Linked DNA regions of Homo sapiens: region 2 is linked to region 1. The links come from fine-mapping of genetic effects on plasma protein levels. Region 1 holds a variant in brackets. A gene starts in the other region. All regions are shown on their forward strands.

What was found. PIP is the posterior inclusion probability: the model's chance that the variant is causal. Protein levels are from antibody-based Olink assays in UK Biobank. Linkage for the fine-mapping came from a reference panel and not from the study's own genotypes, which makes the PIPs less certain.
Region 2: it holds the start of COL1A1, and the variant in region 1 is fine-mapped to the plasma level of the COL1A1 protein (UK Biobank, PIP above 0.99).

What each region holds. Positions count from the first base shown.
Region 1 is chr4:38,354,436-38,365,485 of GRCh38, forward strand. No RefSeq gene overlaps it. Among named protein-coding and RNA genes, the nearest start is that of LINC02513, 7.0 kb to the right of the region's middle. RefSeq lists a silencer at 3,101-3,325. The variant A/G (reference allele first, on the strand shown) is at 5,064.
Region 2 is chr17:50,199,945-50,208,448 of GRCh38, forward strand. It overlaps COL1A1 (collagen type I alpha 1 chain), which reads right to left and starts at 1,687. Exons shown (of 51, transcript NM_000088.4): 1 at 1,467-1,687; 2 at 1-3. The coding sequence starts at 1,569. RefSeq lists silencers at 282-331, 352-401, 902-951 and an enhancer at 5,780-6,281.

The DNA of each region.
Region 1 (11,050 bases):
CAAAGGAAACTATTAACGGAGTAAACAGACAACCTACAAAATGGTAGAAAATGTTCTCAAACTATGCATCCAACAAAGGTGTAATCCAGAATCTATAAGGAACTTAAACAATTGAACAAGCAAAAAACAAATAACCCTGTTAAAAAATGGGCATAAAACATGAACAGACACTTCTCAAAAGAAGACATACAATCAGGCAACAAACTTGAAAAAATGTTCAACATCACTAATCATTAGAGAAATGCAAATCCAAACCAAAATGAGATACTATCTTACACCAGTCAGAATGGCTGTTATTAAAAAGTCAAATTACAGATATTGCCAGGACTGCAGAGAAAGGTGAACACTTATACACTGTTGGTGGGAATGTAAATTAGTTCATCCACTGTGGAAAGCATTTGGGAGATTTCTCAAAGAACTAAAAACAGAACTCCCATTCCACCCAGCAATCCCATTACTAAGTATACACCCAAAGGAAAACAAATCATTCTACCAAAACGTCATATGCACTTGCATGTTCACCCCAGCACCATTCACACTACCAAAGACGTGGACTCAACCTAGATGCCCATCAGTGATGGACTGGATAAAGAAAATAGTATGTATATACCATGGAATACTATGCAACCATGAAAAAGAACAAAATCATGTCCTTTGTAGCAACACGGATACCCCAGCTGGACACTAACATCATAAGTGAATTAACACGGGAGCAGAAAACCAAATACCACATGTTCTTACATACATATGGGAGCTAAACACTGAATACACATGGACACAAAGATGAAAACAATACACATTGGGGATGACTAGAGGGAGGGTGCGAGTGTTGGAAAACTATCAGATACTATGCTCACTACATGAGTGACAGGATCAAAGAAGACGAAGTCTTCCTGCATCAGGGTGGGCTCTAAATCCAATTACTGGTGTTCCTATAAGACACAAAGAAAGGAATAAGGGAATGTGAGGATGGAGGCAGGGGTTGGAGTGATGCAGCTAAAAGCCAAGGAACACCAAGGATGTCTGGAAGCCACTAGAAGCTGAAACGAGCAGCTTTGGAGGGAGTAGGGCCTGGCCAACACCTCGACTTCAGATTCTAGCCTCCTGAACTACAGGAGAATAAATTTATATTGTTTTAAGGCACACAGTTTGTGGTAATTTGTCATGGCAACTCTGGGAAACTAATCCAATAGCTAAAAAAAAAAAACCCTGGGAGCTGGGTCTTGGATCAAAAAAGATTAATCATTTGTTTTCAAATATCAATTCCTGTCCCCTCTGTTCTCAGGGAATTTTATAACCAGTTTCTTATTTCTGTAGCTGCCAAGAGAGTAGAACAGAGGAGAATCTCTCGTTTTACATTAAAATGTCGTGAGATGCAATGTAAAGTAATGTGATATGATGTAATGTCATATCCTAAAGTCAGGGTTAAATTCCACCTAAATGCTTCTAGTAATGGGAACGATGAAGCTTTATTGAGTGCTTCCTGTGTGAACAGAACTGTATAACTCATCAGCCTTCACAACAACCTTATGATAGGGTAGGTGTTATTATTATTATTATTATTATTATTGGAGATGGAGTCTCGTTCTGTCGCCCAGGCTGGAGTACAGTAGTGTGATCTCTGCTCACTGCAACCTCCGCCTCCTGGGTTCAAGCAATTCTCCTGCCTTGGCCTCCCAAGTAGCTGGGACTACAGGCGCACACCCCATGCCTGGCTAATTTTTTGTATTTTAGTAGAGACGGGGTTTCACTGTGTTGCCCAGGCTTTCTCGATCTCCTGAGCTCAGGCAATCCGCCCGCCTTGGCCTCCCAAAGTGCTAGGATTACAGGCATGAGCCACCGTGCCCAGCTCAGGTCCTATTATTATTACTATTTGACAGACGAGGACACTGAACCTTGTCTCCAAAGGCACATGGCTGGTAAATGGTCAAAGACAGGATTTGACCAAGAAACTGACTCCAGAGCTCGTGCTCCTAACCACTACGTTATCTATATGCCTCGTAAACATGGGAATGCCACGCAAAATGATTCTTTAAAAAACAACAAAAAACTATTCTTTCTGTTTGCTGAAATATAATATGGGCAAGTTAAGATCTGGGGAAAAAATCTCAATTCATAAAGCGGCAGAGCAGACGCATATGCATAGAAAACTATCCACAAGAAAATAAATCAGCAGAAGTATGTCATGTCTTAATTTTTTTAAAAGCAACATTTTTCATTTTTCAACGTTGTGGTGCTGCCACCATTACACACACACAGCCCTCCAAAAAGAATCTTGACCTAAACTTTATAATTTATACAAAAAAGAATTCACAATGAGTCATAGATTTATGCATTCAAATGTAAAATGTAAAACAATACTACTTTTAGAAGGAAACAGGATATAGGAAAGGAATTTTTTTTATTACCATTCTTTTTCTTTTTTTTTTTTTTGAACATACAAAAAGCTATACAAAATGATTCTTTTATGCAGATAAAAATATCCCAGACACTCTCTTCACTCCTCACATCCTTACCCAGTGGCCTAGAGCATATCTCAAATGAGCCTGGTAGATCATTTGATCACAACTCAAGTCTTGGTGTCCAGTTAACCTTTTTTGAGACTGTTGTTATGTACTCAGCCATGACATTGTCTTCCTTAAGGTGCATGGGTTAGGTGACACATCAAATCATTTTTACCTTTAAGGAATTAAGATGAATATTGGTGAAGTAAACTTGCCAGGGCCACCCTTCTGGTTTTCCTAACTTCCCTAACTTTTAAAAATCCTTCACTCTTTCCCTTTCATCTACAGGATAAAATTCAAACTCCTTGGTATGTTTTATACCAGAGGTTGGTAAACTTTTTCTGTAAAGGATCACAGAGTATATATTTTAGGCTGGCCATAGGGTTTCTGTCCACTGCTCACCTTTGTAGTAAAGAATGAGGAAGCAGGCCGGGCATGGTGGCTCATGCCTGTAATCCCAGCACTTTGGGAGGCCAAGGCGGGTGGATCACCTGAGGTCAGGAGTTCAAGACCAGCCTGGCTAACGTGGTGAAACCCTGTCTCCACTAAAAATACAAAAAATTAGCTGGGTGTGGTGGCATGTACCTGTAGTCCCAGCTACTTGGGAAGCTGAGGCAAGAGAATTGCTTGAACCCGGGAGGCGGAGGTTGCAGTGAGCAGAGATTGCACCACTGCACTCTAGGCTGGGCGACAGAGTGAGACTCTCTATCAAAAAAACAAAAAAAAAACACCACCACCACCACCAAAAAGAATGAGGAAGCCGCCATAAACAATATGTAAAAGAATGGACACAGCTGTGTTTCAATAAAGCTTTATTTACGAAAACAACTAGCGAGCCAGATTTGACTTGAGGGCCATAGTTTGTCTACCCCTGCAGTTCTTCAAAAGCTGCTGCACCCTAAATTGTATACTCCATCTTCAGTCACACTGAAGTTCTTATACTTTTCAAATTCACATGCTGTTTTAATTATTTGAGCCTCTGCATAGTCTATATGTTTTGTTTGCATGCCTTTCTCCATCTTTTCTCATTCCATTATCAGGTTAGCAAACTCCCATGGACAGCAGACCATTCCATATGAGCTACTGGCAACACTTACCCCATTGCATTGTAACTATTCATTAATTGACCTGTAATTAACCATTGATGTGATCACAGCTTACTGATCATAGTACCTCAAGGAACATACTTGCTTGCTGCATACTTCCAGCCAGTGCTGTCACTTTGTATTACATCAATCACACCCTGTTGTAGTGTGTATGTTTCTGCTTGCATATTTTCTTTGGCTGCTAGGAATCCCAGAGCCAAAATAGAGGCTTCATGTCAGCCACCATAGAAGACTTTACAACATGCACATGTGTGTTTCTCTCCTCTATCCTAGGCCACCTCCTTATTCGGACATATTTCCTGTAGATCTGATATTTTGTTTGCATTTTGCTATTTTATGTGGGCATTGCTTAAAAGCTACCTCAAACATTTGTATAAAAAGGCAGGATTCATTCATTCATTTCTTCATCTGCAACTAAGTCATATTTCCCCTTGATCACTTTTTGTACTTTTTCAAAGTAGAAACACTCTGTATTTTTACCTAGAACCTAGTGATGTACTTAGTATATTGATGACATTATTTCAGGAATAATTGTGAAATAAAATGAATAATAATAGCCAGAAGAGAAATGGATAAATAATAAAATTTGCTAATTTGAGGCTTATCTATATATTATTAAATCCAAAGGTAACAGCTATAATTGTGTAGAACTTACACTAATACAAGTTTTTTGAGGAAAGGCATTTTATCTCTGACATGGTTGAAGACTGTTCATGATGTGGTGATAATAAAAAGTAACCATCTCTTAATTGGCTTTATTATCGTTTTCAAATTCTCCACAGAAAATGTACACCTACTCCCCCCCACCACACACACAGGCATGGGTGTGCGCGCACACACACACACACACACACACATACACACCAGATATTCAGAAACATCATTGCTAGAACCTAAACTGGTGGATTAAAACTTCATATTTGGAAGTTTCAAGTTAAAAATACAGGAAAGTGGTATCCACATTGCTTTCTGGGATTCATTTTTCCTTTATGTTTTAATAAATAAATGTCTCCTCACATAACAGCTAACCATCTTCAAGTGTCACATCTTCAACCCTTTGGTATGCTAATACACTTAGGTTGACTTTATGGTGTCAGAAATGTTCTAATATTACAGTTTAGCTCTAGACTTGGATGCTTGATCCTTGCTCAGGTAAGATGGCTTTCTGAATTCAGAAGAAAAATGAGATATATAGATCAAAACAAATCGGCACGCAAAAACCATTCTCTAAATGAGTCATGGGAAATGAAGCTTGTTGACTAGAACTTGCTTTATTAAGACTGAAATTAAGATTTACATCCAGAAGTAGGTTTGATGAGAGCCACTAGAACTGGCATGCTTTGAGAATGACAGCAGAACAACCTTTGTGTTTATCTTGCAAAGCAAATGAACTTCAGTTAAATGGAGGCCAGAGAGGGATGCTGAATGTGTTCATCTGAATATCTGAGGTTTG[A/G]AAAAAATCTCCTTCTTGTTTGAACCATATCAGTTCATTTTCTAGCCCTGGTACATATAAAGGACCTATGCCACGATTAACATTCAAGAACTGCTTAGCCCTCCAGCATGTTCATGTCAACACCTGTAGAATACTGTAAATGTGGAGGGGGCGCAGATTCAATTCAAAGGAATTCAGTGTGTTTCCCAAGGATCTATTATGACTAGACTCAATGTGTTGATGTGACCTACTCTAGGACAGATTTTAGTTATTGCTTACCTATTGGCTTTCATTCCATTAAAAAAAATCTGGATCACGGCTTCCCTGGTTGTCATTTGCTTCTTTCCTTCTCCTCTAGACAACAGTCCAAATAACTATGTGCTCAGGTAAGTTGGTTTCATTTAATTGAACCAGATAGTGGAGGCAATTGTAGTCATTTTATATAACTTTTGCATCTAAAGAAGCCATTTAGAAATATTCAGGTACAAATCCTACAGGCCATCCCCACTCTGTGCCTATTGAACCTTCGTGAGATTGTCATGCTCCCAGGCTTTAATGGATACAGTTGAGGATCACACGCTCTTAGTATGCCCAGAAGGATCATTGAAATTGGGCTGTAGTAAACACCTCTTGTTAGCGTTAGAGGTACCCTCATCCTGACCCAGTGAGCCTTCCCCACTGGCCTCTCTCCTCCAGCAGATAACAAGATGTGGCATGCACAATGGAAGCTTCCTTTTCTCTTGGCAGATCCTGAATGGAGCCAAGGGGAACAGTTGCAAAACAGAAAATTGACTATGATGGAAGACTCTTTGGTGCTACATCTGATATGATTAACAATTTATTTTGGCAACACCCAGGATGGGTTTCATATGGTTTTCCTGAATTCAACAGGATTCCTGCCAGCAGAATCAGGAACACTAAGAAATAATCCAGGCTGAGGGAGAAAAAAAACAACATGCCATCTTGCAAAGTGTTTCATAGCGTTGACTCTGTGATCTGGAAAACAGCCATTGCTCTCAATCCCTCTATTTCCAACTGCTCATCAACTATTGTCTTCCCAGTCTTGGGTTGATAGATGGGCTTATAATTAGCATGGTAGATGGCCCAGAGGAGAAACCATTGTAAGAAGGGAGATGAAAGATGTGGCAGCCAAATATTTTTCAATACACAAATATTCTTAAAATATGGATGTTCTATCCAAGTTATCATCTGTAAGAAACACAATTGCTACATATTGTGGACTTTCAGAGTTAACTGCTCTTACAGGAATCTACTTTTAGGCTGAAAGAAAGACTATTCTGCTGTACAGAAATGCTTCTCTCCCAGAATTGAAGCTTCTATCTCTGCAGAAGGACTTCTACTAACATAATATTCTTGGGTTTTCTCTGCTTTCCAACCTTTTTTCTTCCTCAGGGTGGGTTTGAAGGAGGACCTGGGCATGCATTCCTGAGCTTCTTCCTCTTCTGTTTCTCCTGGGAGTGAGCCCACCTGCAGAGAGAATAAGTCTCCATTGCTCCCAAACATGGGAGAAGCCTGCTGGGGAGACCTGGCCATGACTAGATGTGTGTCTACAGTAGGAAGCCCACCTGCTTGTACCTATAAGGCATGTTCTAAAATATTAGCATTAGGAAGCCACTTATTTGTACCTATTAGCCATGTTCATAATATTAACATCATCAATAATAAGGGTGATGTTTGGGTCCTGTTTTATTTCTCAATTGGTTCAAAATATAGGCAAGGGCAGGGCACAGTGGCCCATGCCTGTAATCCCGGCACGTTGGGAGGCCGAGGCAGGTGGATCACCTGAGGTCAGGAATTCGAGACCAGCCTGGCCAACATGGTGAAATTCTGTCTCCACTAAAAATACAAAAATTAGCCGGGCATGGTGGTGTGCACCTGTAGTCCCAGCTATTTGGGAGGCTGAGGCATAAGAATCGCTTAAACCCAGGAGGCAGAGGTTGCAGTGAGCTGAGATTTTGCCATTGCAATCCAGCCTGGGTGACACAGACAGACTCTGTCTCTAAAAACAAAACAAAACAAAACAAAAACATAGGCAAGGAAAAAAGGTGTTAATTAGTGGTTCCCGCTATGATTAGAATATTTGTCTCCTCCAAAACTCATGTTGAATTTCAATCCCCAGTGTGGCAGTGTTGAGAAATGTAGTCTTTAAGAGGTGATCGAATCATAAGGGTTCTGTCCTTGTGAATGAATTAATTCATTAATAGATTAATGGACTAATGGGTTAATGGATTCATGGGTTAACATGGGAGGGGAACTGGCGACTTTATAAGAAGAAGAAGAGAGGCCTGAGCGAGGATGTTAGCACGCCCAGCCCCCTTGCCACGTTATGCCCTGAGCCACGTCAGGACTCTTCAGAGATCTCCCCCCAGCAAGAGGGCGCTCACCAGATATGACCCCTCAACCTCAGACTTCTCAACCTCCATAACAGTAAGAAACAAATTCGTTTTCCTTATAAATTACTCAGCTTCAAATATTCTGTTATAAGCAACAGAAAACAGACTAATATAGGCCCCCTACAAGCCTCAACAGATGCTCAGCCAGTAGCCAATTTCATCTGATAGGAAATATGTTTTCACATTGTTTTCTACTTATCTTTCACGTTAGCATTTCCTTCACCTTGCACTGGATTAAAAGAAACATCTTGGTATTCAGCTTTGGACTTATGTAAACAAATAGGCTGCAGAATCATATGACTATGACATGGGACATCATTTGGCCTTGACATTTTGCCTTAGGCCTTGCACACTCCTCTTCATTCACTCAGAGGTCCAAGACTGTCCACATTTCCTTTTATTCTTCCTGTGGTGTACATTCTCAGGATTGTATTAGAGAATATTAAAGTGTCTAAGCCTGGCACAGTGGCAAACACCTGTAATCCCAGCTATTCCAGAGGCTGAGGTGGGAGGATCACTTGAGCTGAGGAGTTGGAGGCTGTAGTGTGCTGTGATTGAGACTGTGAATAGCCACTGTACTCCAGTAGGGCAACAGAGTGAGACCCCACCTCTAAAAAAAGATGGAAAAAAAAAATAAAAGCTTCTTTATCTGGATAGCAGTTAGATGGACTTGAAATTGGCAATGAGACTCTGCTTTGATCTTTAATTGCGAGGTCAGTCAAGAAGGGCATGGCCGTGATTAAATTGAATATTAAAACTAGAGAGAAGGAGAGAGATGCCAAGAAGGGAAAGTCAGCTTCTAACCCCCTTGATCTGCAGCTAAGAAGTTTGTAAATCAGTATTTGCAGAAGAATATTGTTGAGAGTTTACAGTATCAATGAGATACCAACAAATTAGGACATGTGTCCATGACCATAACACATAATCGATAAAGTAAGGCCCTAACATTAATTGTTCCCAAACTTTTTCATCCACATTATCAAATTTGATCCTTGCTCTGTGAGGTAGACAATATCATCCCCATTTTAAGAGTTTGGCAAACCGAGGCCCAGTGGGATAGAGTAACTTGCTCAAATTTCTCCAGCGTGTTAAAATCAGATTCAAACTGAAGGAGGTCAGGAAACGCCACCACAAAATACATTTTGGTATGCTGATTACTTCGAACTGGAGGGCACTTGGAGAACAGTGGTGCAGGCAGAGGTCTTCTCTGAGCTCTCCTTATCCGCCTAAAGACAGATCCTCCAAAAGGAACGCAACCGTTATTTCCTCTCTCTGGGAATCTTATCAACCAGGTAAGATTAATTTCAATCACAAGAAAAGAGACTACGGATTAACTCCATGCCCTGACGATAGCCTGTTCTTCTGAGGGGTGCAGAGTCTCGTAATCTGCATAACAAGACAAGCTTTGTTCACCTTGTATTTCCTCCCCTCACCTTCCCATTCCTTGTGTCTCCACCACCCACTAGAAGCCCCAGGCCTCTATTCCTTTCTGTAGCTCTGGATACTATATAAGCTTCAATCATCTGATCCTTCTTTGAAACTCATATTTTGTAGAACTCCCATGTGTATGTATGTAATTAACTATGGTTTTCCTTCTGTCAATCTGTCATATGTCCATTTAATTTGTAGCCCAGCCAAGGAACCTCATTCCTTGTGTCTCCACCACCCCCCAGAAGCCCCAAGCCTCTATTCTTTTCTGTGGTTCTGGATGCTATATAAGCATCAATCATCTGACCCTTTTTCGAGACATATTTTGTAGAACTCCCATGGGTATGCACATAATTAAATATGGTTTTCCTTCTGTTAATCTGTCATATGTCCATTTAATTTGTAGCCCAGCCAAGGAAACTGAAAGAGAGAAATTTTTCACTCCCCTACAAAACCTGTGTTTTCTTACTTGAAGTACGGTGGTCTTTTTACTCTATTACTACTGCCTCTCAGCCTATATACTTGAGAATAAACTGAAACATTAATATATTTTAAAAGGAGTAGATAAAACAGCTGGGCTTGACATAATTGAATTTTCTTATTGAATATATGGTGGACAACATAATGGATTTCATGACGTGATTTGAAAGGTGACTAACACTCCTTTGGTTCTGTGATGCACAACGATAAAAAAAGTAATGCAGGCCGGGTGTGGTGGCTTATGCCTGTAATCCCAACACTTTGGGAGGTTGAGGCAGGCAGATCACCTGAGGCCAGGAGTTTGAGACCCGCCTGGCCAACATGCTGGAACCCCATCTCTACTAAAAATACAAAAAATTAGCCAGGAGTGGTGGTGGGCACCTGTGGTCTCAGCTACTTGGGATGCTGAGGCAGGAGAATCGCTTGAACCCAGGACGCAGAGGTTGTAGTAAGTCAAGATTGCACCACTACACTCCAGCCTGGGTGACAGAGCGAGACTCTGTCTCAAAAAAAAAATAAAAAATAAAAAAATAAAAAAATAAAAAAAATAAAGAAAAGAGAAAAAGAAAAAGGAAAAGAAAATAATGGTGATGTAGTATCATTTGAAAGACATTAGGGCTTACTTCATAAATCTTTGTCATTCACATTTGAAAATTATACTGTTGAGGATATGTCTGTGTTGTGCATGGGTAGCTGAAACCTGATATTGGCCACGTTCCATTTTATCTACATTTAAGTGGGGATTAGACATTTGACCCCAATAAATGGAATCCTAGTGCTCTAGGGTACATAGAGGATATTCCAGAGCATTTGGTCGCTTAAGTGAAGAATCGTTTGTCTGAACTCTAATGAAAGAGAGAATGAGGTTTTGAGTGACACTGACTAGGTAGAGGCCTGGAAAGTAACTTGGTGGTTGTTGGTAATGAAGAGGAGGCCCAGCCTTAGGTACCAGAATGTCAGCAGGTACCCATAGCTAACACCTAATTAACTCCACATCTGTCCTCTGTTGTTCCTGGCCCTCTGCCCTTACTCCCACAATGCCTGAGGCTCTCCTCTGTATACCCCAGCATCTTAAACAATCCAGGCTCTCTCTGCTCTCCCCTGTCCATGCATCCTGAAAGTCCAAGCCTACCCTAAAACCCATGCACTAGCACCATCTCCTCATGGGACTGAGGACGGGACCTTCCAAGGGGGTAGTAATAGCCCCTGAAATGTACATAACTCTCAATGCCTTGTAAAGCCCTTTCATATATAATAGCTTATTTGATGTTCACAATTTATCCATGAAGCAGGCGAGGAATATTCTGATTCTGTTTTATGGACGTGAAAGTTGAGGTTCTCAGAAGTAAGGTAAGTGGCAGAACCACCACCATCTACCACATCTTTAGGATCCTTTCTCCTCTACAGTGATTCATAAACCTCTGTACCAAAGGCTCTTAAAAGTCCATGGGAATAACTCCACAATGATGATAAAATAAATTCCCCTCATTGTAAAGCAATTTTTTAAAAACCCATAAAATTATATTAAGTCTATTGAAGCTAACACTGTATTCAAATGCAATAAAATAACTATATAAATGCTTTGCTTAAAAGGACAGCACCCTAATTAAGAAGATTGTTAAAAGGATGGAGCATATGAATACATCTATTACACAGGATTTACTAGAACTCTTTGTACCCACAGCA
Region 2 (8,504 bases), not on the chromosome of region 1:
GGACTGGGACAGGCGGAAGAGGGGCGTTGTCAGTAGTGACTGCAACCCCCAGCTTAACCACCTTTCCCCCGGGTCTAAGAGGCACACTTGGATTTTTCACTTCCCGCCCCTCCCCCCGTTCTTCTTTCCTCAAATCCTTAAAAGCTCGCCTGCTCCTCATCAGCGCGGGTGACAGCGCCGAGGCGCCTGGCCAGGGAGGCTGTAACTCTTTCCAGTTCTCAGGAATTTAAACAAAGCTTTAGTCCGCGGTGGCTTCCAACTCCAACCTCAGCCCATTGGCGCTGAAGCCAAGTGAAATAAAAACCACAGGGTGAGAGGGGGAGGGCGGGGGGAGAATAGGAGGGGCCCCATCGGGAGGGCAGGCTCGTGGGGAGTGGCTTGCGTGGTAGAGACAGGAGGAGGGCGAGGGAGGAGAGAAGGGAGGTCCAGCCCTCATCCCGCCCCCATTCCCTGGGCAGGTGGGGTGGCGGGGGCGGGGCTAGGAGAATGGGAGCGGCTGATTGGAAGGGAGGCCCCCCCAAGACTTGAAATGTACCTCAAAATTAGGAGACACCCTAACCTCCAGCACCTAGACATCTTAAAAGCCCGCTCTCGGGGCCATCCCCAGTCCCCCAAAGCCAGCCAATGCCTCCAGGTCACTTTTAGCCAAAGAACCAAAAAGTCCGCAAATAGTCCAGAAGTTAGCTAACCACTCCCACCGCGCTAGCGGCTCCCCAGACGGCCACTAGGTGTCGGGCAACGCTAAGCAATGGGGCCGGGGCGGGGCCGACCTCACCGGCCCGACTACCTCTTTAAGAGGCTTGGGCTGCCCCATCCCTGGCTTTACTTTCCAGATCTAGAGGTGGGGGTCCGCACCCAGCAATAACCCGGGTCTTCCCGCTCCGGCTCCTGCCCCAGTAAGCGTTGGACCGGGAGACGCAGTGCTCAGCATCGGTCAGCAGGGGGCGCAAGGACCCCGCCCCGCCGAGTCCGCGCCAAAGTTTCTCATCCTCCACCCGCCCACGCTCCGCACCCCCTCCGCGGCTGCCCAGCACCCCCACGGCCCCAGCAACACTCTAGCCCGCAGAGAGGGCAATCTTTCCTTATGAATCATCCCACGGCCTTCCTGATTGCTTCTACATCTTGGGCTTCAAATGCCCCGCTCGGCGCCCCCATCCCATCTTCGACGTGCTTTCCTCACTCTGCACCCAGATCCCCACTTCCCCGGTTGCGCGCTCGGGATTCTCTCTTGCACCAACTCACGCCGCGCTCCACCCTCACCTCCCGCTCCCGGGGCGCGTTCAACCCCAACCTCGCCCCAGGGTGAGCTCCCTCCTGTCTCAGGGCGCCGAGGAAGAGCCCTCATCATCTCCCTTCCATTCCCGAGTCTCCGGATCATCCACGTCTCGTTTTAAGCCGCGGCCCCCGGGACCAAGCGCAAGGCGCGATATAGAGTATCCTTGCACTCCCAAAAGTTTGGGACTTACTGTCTTCGTCTTGGCCCTCGACTTGGCCTTCCTCTTGGCCGTGCGTCAGGAGGGCGGTGGCCGCTAAGAGGAGCAGGAGCCGGAGGTCCACAAAGCTGAACATGTCTAGACCCTAGACATGTAGACTCTTTGTGGCTGGGGAGGGGGTTAGCGTCCGCTCATGCGTGGCCTCACACTCCGCGTGCCTCCTGCTCCGACCCCGAGGAGAAACTCCCGTCTGCTCCGACGACTGGCCCGGGCCCCTTTTATACTGTCCTGATGGAGAGCAGGGAGGAACCCTGCCCCTCGGAGAGGGGGAGCCGGCCGCCCGTGCCCCAGCCAATCAGAGCTGCCTGGCCCGGCCCCCAATTTGGGAGTTGGAATGGAGAGGGGGAGGAGGAGGGAAGGGAGTCCACCCCACATCTCCCCTCTTCGCAGCTCTGCCTCCCCAGCCCCCCAGCCCAGCCTGGGCCAGAGGTGCTGTGGTAGGGGTGCAGCTGGGTCCTCAGAATGGCGTGGGCTAACCAGTGGGTAGGGGTGCCCCTCTGCTCTCTTCCTGGGACCTCCAATCTAGAAGAAGTGGAACTGGGGAACTGGGGAGCTGGGTGGGGAGACTTCCAAAGGTGGAAGGGTTGGGGGTGTTGGGGAGGGGGTCCTCCTGGCTGTGCCCCAGTCACCCTCTGATATCCTGGCAAGAGCTAAGGGAGGGGCATAAAGAGGCATGCTGAGGACCTCTCCAAAACAGAGGAAGCTGGGAATTAAAAAGATGTGCCTGTTTGGGGGTGTCTTCTGGTGTGGCTAGGGGATGGAGCTTAGGAATATTTGGGGAACAATTTACAGATTCCTTTCTAGACATTAAGAATCAGATATCTGAGGGAGGGGTGCAGGCAAGGGAGTTTTAATTTTGAGGATGTCAATTCTTCTGCTGTGCTCCAGAACAGAATCAAATGCCTTCCTCCAAACCCTAGGCATGATTGAGAGATGGAGTGGGGAGGCTGAGGTGCAGGGTGAGAAACATGACTAGGTGGCCTCTGCAGAAGAAAGCTTTGGTGGTTGGGTGATGGAGCAGCCAAGGTAGGGGTGGGGGATTCTAGGGACACAGAGGTGGGGATTGGGGCTTGCAATCCCCTAAAAATTCATCCCCCAAACTCTTCCACCCCAGAGTTGGGAAGTATTTTTAGTGGGAGGCCTGTGATCATTGGTGACTTAGAGAAGAGTTTTGTTTGCCATGGCTGTGGCCAGGGGCTGCTTAGAGACCCTCCTTCCCAGCACAGTCAAACCAGAGAGAACCTGGGTGGAGGGAGGGCACTTAGCTAAAGGGGTGTCTTTCTGGGAGCTGCATAAAGCCCCTTCTCCAGTTGTACCTGGACTCAGTGTTGGGGATGTATGGGATATTTTGGGTGTCTGGGTGAAACTTTCCTTTGGGGGTGTGGGATGGGCTGCAGAGGATGATTGACTTTGTTTTAGGGGCTACTTCCCACTGCCTCATCTCTTTCTTGAAAATCCCGGTCATTGCTCTATGCCTTAGGAACCAGAGAGAATCATCTGTACACTCTGAAAGGGTCTGGGGACCCGAAGGACAGCAGGCTATATCTAAGGAAGATGGCTCTAGAACTCCACGTCCTTTCTTCCTCCATGTCCCATTCCCCCAACAAGGCTCTGCCTCAACCCCAATCTACCTCGTCCTGAGAAACTCTGTAGGGCTGAGAGAAGGCCTGGGGGTCTCCTTGCAGTGCCCTGTTCATTTCTCTCCCTCCTGTGCAGCTCCCCACCCCGGGTGCTCCAGAGCTGCAAACGTGGAAGCGGGGAGTCCCGCCTCCCCCAAACCATCCAAGATTCCATTGCCTCCCCCCGCCCCTCTCCACGCCCTCCCCCAGCTGGTTTTGTGCAACGAAGGCAAAGGGGAAAAAAAAGGAACAGAAGGGGAGGGAGCCACGTCGGCTGGCCGGCTGGCCGTGGGCAGCCAGGATGAGCGGTGCGGGTGGGGCAGCAGAGGGAGACTGCAGGGGCTATAATTAAAGGGAAAATATAGAGTTTCCAGAGAGGCAGGGCTGGAGACAGCAATGGAGGGATGGACCTTCATCAATTATCCCGACCATGTGGCAGCAACTTGTGGCCCAGGGTCTGCCCCCGCCTAGTGCCAGCGACTGCAGGGCAGGACTAGGGGGCTGAGGTGCTGAGATGGCAGTTCTTGAACCCACCAAAGTCCTGCCCCCTACTGTGGGTCAGTTCCAAGAGAACCCCTCCCTAATAGGCGACAGGGGTCCTGTTTTTGGAGGGAACAGACATTTAGAGTGGTGGTCTAGGGCAGGGTGCCGCAGGGCTTGGTAGTATGAGGGTTAGTGACCTGTCCACTTCCTTGCTTCTTGGGTTTTCGTAGTAAGAAGGGCTCCTGCCTGCAGCTCCCCGCCCCTCCCCATATGTTTCCCATCCAGGCTTTCCCACGCCCATCTTAAAGAAGAGTTGAAACCTCCAAGGTGTGAATTGGGGGTTGCTACATCATGGGCCTGGGGTTCTGAAGGATATTTGGGGATCCCTGGCTTTGGAGTTTTGTGTGCCTGGCGTGTGACAGCCACCACCCCAATGTCCAGTTCCAGGCCTTCCTCCCAGGGGCCGAGGCAGACAGTTTCCAAGCATCCTTTACACGTGGCATGGAGCTGAGGCTCAAGGCCTCCCCTGCCACTCTTCGACTTAAAACGCTTGGCGGGTGCCCAGGCTGAAGATGTGTCTTTAATTTCTGCAGTATGACAGTGAGAGGAAGAATGTGCTTGGGGTCTCCTCCCAGCCTGGCTGGGCCTTCCTGGCCAGGATTGAGGGCTGCAGACTGGGGGGATGGGGGGTGGGAGGAGGAGGGAGCTTGTGCCTGTGAGAGGAGGAGACGCCACCTCATCTTTAGGAAACTCTGAAGCTCTGGCTTCTTGTGGAATGTAAGACTTTGTCCGGCACTTAAAGTGGGGGGGAGCAAAAGCCAAAATCTCCTCCCCACACCCCCAAGAAATGGTAAAGTCATCAGCAGTTAGGGAAAAAAAATTCCTTAAGAAGAAAAACAGAAAGAGGAAAGTGCTGAGCTTGAGTTCTCTCCTTCTCCAAATTTCCCCAAGTGCCCCCCTCCAACACCAAAGAAGGAGGGAAAAGGCCCCCACCCTCAGAGCTCCTCAGGTGCCCCATCTGGACTCCATGGTATGGGACAAAGGAGGAGAACACACCTGGAAGAGGTAGCCCAGGTGTTGTGCACCTGGTGGGGGGCATGCACCCCTGCCCTGCACATCGGGGTCACCCTTTCCAGCTGCTGCAGCCCCCAGTTGAGGTTCTGTTGCTCTTCCCCCAACTCCAATTCTCCAGAACGCTTCTCTGCTCCCACCTCTAGCCCTAGACTGATGATAAAGAGGGGGTTCCTAGGAGAGGGTCTGAGGAGACAGAAGGGCGGGGTCTAAGAGTGGGGGTGCAGTGAAGACCCCAGGATGAAGCTCTCCATGAGTCTCTATCATGGAGCCCTGCACAGTTCCTGTTGAGGGAGCCTGGAGCAGAGTCTGGGGATAGACCCCGGGTGTGTGCAGGCCCTTCTTCTTCCCTCGCTTTAGCATTGCACAGTCGGAGCCCTTTGCTAGGTTCCTCAGCTTCCAGGTACAGCTCTGCTCTTCTATGCCTTAGCCCCAAACCCAAGTCCTCCAGCCTCCTAGGATTTCCCTCTCTCCCTTCCTCCCTCCTTCCTTCCTTTCCAGGGTTAGGGGGAAGATGATGAAGTAGGTTTTGTCCATGCTGAGTGTTTGAAGCCTGTGAGACATCCAATTAGAAATACGGAGGAAACCCTTGGGCACTTGGGTCAGGAGTTCAGAGGAGAGACAAATGTGGGTCCCAGGATGATGGTAACTGAAGCTGGGGTTGTGGATGGTGTTGTCTCAGAGAAAGCATGGAGGGAGGGAGTGTGGAGGGGCTGGCACTGAGCCTCGGGGACCCTCAGGGTGTAAGGGCTGGGTGGAGGAGGAGGAGATAGGGCAAGAGTGGCCAGAGAAGGAGGGCTGGGTGAGAGGGATTGGGGGGTCATGAGTGCAGAGGAAAGAGATGGTACTAGAAGGAAGGAGAGTTATATGCTGCAGAGAGAACTAGTATGGTAAGGAGTAAAATGTTCCCTGGACTTAGCAGAATGGTGGTGACTGATCCCCGCAGCGTGAGCTGCTGTGGTGGAGAGATGGACAAGGAAGCCGGACTGGAGTGGGCTAAGGAGTGTGTGGGAGGCCAGGAAGCAAGGTCAGAGGGCAGCGACTGGGAGGAGGAGTCTGGCTGTGGCAGGAGTCTAGAGAGGCATCTGTCCCCTGCTCTTTCTCTTTCTTCCCAGCCCGGATCCTGCGTTCCTTTCAGGCCCCTGCATCCCTCCTCTGTCTTCCAAGTTTCTTCGCTGCTTTCTCCATCCCCCTCTGTCTCCAGAGCTCCTTTTCTGGATCTCATTTGCCTCTTTTGCTCTCCTTCCCCCTTTCCTTTTCTTTCCAGGTGACCCGAGCCCTCAAATGTCCATAGCCAGGCCCAGCCTCCCCCTCATTCTCCCCTAGAACAAGCCCTCATTCCAGGCTCTTGAAGATGAACTTTGTTTTCTAGTCCTGGACGGATCCCACCCCATTCTCTGACCGCTGCCTCCACCACCCCCACCCCAGTCCTAGGAGGAGAACTTGGGAGCTGGAGAGAGAAGGGCTGGGGGTATGGCCCCAGGTGACACGAGGTCTGTCATGGCCCCAGCTCCCAAGCCCTCTCCAGCCACCCCACCAGGTCCCAGCCAGGCCCCAGCTGAGAATAATGCACTGGATGGGGGATGTTGTTGAGTTAGGGGACCCCAGTTCTCACTGCTGCTCTCTGGTAGTCAGAAGTGAGGGGTCAGCCCCATCTTTCCTGCTGGAGTGAGCTCCCAGCTGGGTAGCTGGCAGCTTTTCTGTCATATCCCTCCCTGCTCCTGATGTCTGGAGGCAGTGTAGTTCTTCTTAAAAGTTGGCTTGGCAGGGCGCGGTGGCTCACACCTGTAATCCCAACATTTTGGGAGGCTGAGGCAGTCGGATCACCTGAGGTCGAGAGTTTGAGACCCCAGCCTAGCCAACATGGTGAAACTCCATCTCTACTAAAAATACAAAAATTAGCCCGGCATGGCGGCATGGGCCTGTAGTACCAGCTACTTGGGAGGCTGAGGCAGGAGAATCACTTGAACCCAGGAGGCGGGGGTTGCAGTGAACCGAGATCACACCATTGCACTCCAGCCTGGGCAAAAAAGCGAAACTCTCTCTCTCAAAAAAAAAAAAAGAAAGAAAGAAAGAAAGAGAAAAGAAAAAAAAAAGAGAAAGTTGGCCCCATGAATTGATTGAATATTTACACCTTTCTGGGTTGGTTCAATTCCGTGCCTATTTTATCCCATTTGCTTTTCTCCATTCCTTTCTTCCTTTCTTTCTTCTATTCATTTACCTTTTCTCTCCCCCACCCCCAACCTCTCTCCCTTCAAATTTTTCTCTTCATGCGTTTTTCTTCCTTTTCTTAGTTTTTTTTTTCCTTTCCTTTTCTTTCCTCGGTCTCTGACCCGTTGTCCCACCTCTCCACCCACATACTTTTTTCCCCCTCCCTCTTTTCCTCTCTTATTCTCTTCCGGTATCTCCTCTTCCCCAGTCCCCGGTTCTCTGGTGCCCATCCTGGGGTATGGCGCTCTGCCGGGTCTCCTCATGCTGTAGGCGGGCGTGCAGCCTTCGTGAGCTGCTCCAGGGGAGAAAGGGCAGCAGCCATAGGGGGCGTGGCCGGGGGGCGGGTGGTGCAGGGCTCGCATCACAGCCAGATGTCTGGTTGCCGTGTTGTGTTTGGGAGATAAATGCCAGGGTTCCTTTGAATCCTGAATTTAAATAAAAGAAGGGGGGTGCTGAGGAGAAGCCTCTGTTGGGCAGAGGTACCTTCCAGATCTTGATCTCCTTCCTTGATACCCACCCCCCACAACCCCCACCCCAGGGAAGTTTTGGCCACCGATGTCTTCTGTCTTCTGCTTCTGCCCCAGCCACGAGTTCTTCCTCCTGGCAAACTTGAGATTCTGGAGTTTCAGGGCGGGGTGTTGGGCAGGGGTCCTGGCAGGGGCCCCTTTGGACAGTCTGGCTCGGACACAGAAAGGATCCTGTATGGATAACATGACCTTGCCTTCTTCCCAAAAGCCACCCCCACCCCATTTTGCTAAGGAGCTACATTCATTTGCTGATAAATTCATGCAACAATAGTCACGTGCCAGGCACTTTGCTGGGTACTGGGCATTCAATGGTGAGCAGCACAGACCCTGTGTCTGCCTGATGGAGTTTGTGTCTGGTAAAGACACAGACAGCAATGAAATCACATGAATAAACGTGGAGGTGCAACCATTAAGGTTACTAAGAAGAAGAATGCAGAGCTTTGAATGGGCAGACATGGCAGAGGGTCTGCTCTAGTCCTGGAGCCCTAGGAAGGCTTCCCTGGGTAGGCTGATGGGAAAAGGATAGGAGGCAGGGTGGATAGTGATGGGACCACATATGCAAAGGCAGGAGGGGGCATGGCGAGTGCTGGATGCCCAAGGAATTCAGGGAAGGCCAGTGTGGCTGGAGCACCACAGGCAAAGGCTGGGCGGGCCAGAGAAGCCCCATCACAGGTGTAGTTTGCCTCCTTTCAGCTATGGGCCCCAGCAGAGGGCCTGACGCAGGGGAGGGTCACAATCAGGTCTGCATTTGTAAAAGAAAGCCATGGGCACTCCATGGAGTAGGTACCTGCGGGAGGAGGGCTGTGGTCAAAGGTGGAGGAGCAGCTGAGAGGCTGCTATACTTGCCCAGGTGAGGGGCTTGGATCCGGTAGGTGGGAATGGAGACAGAGAGAAGAGGATGGGCTTGAGAGCCCTTTGGGAAGCAAAATTTACAGGTGCTGGGGTTGGATTGGATGTGGGGTGGGGTTGGTGAGGAACAGGGATGATCCCGGGCTTCTGGCTGGGCAAGGACCCTGCTTGGGGGACAATATGCTGAGTTTGGTGCCTGTTGCCGGCCCTGTAGTTGATCCTTTTCACTGAGTGGTTACTTCAGGCCTTCT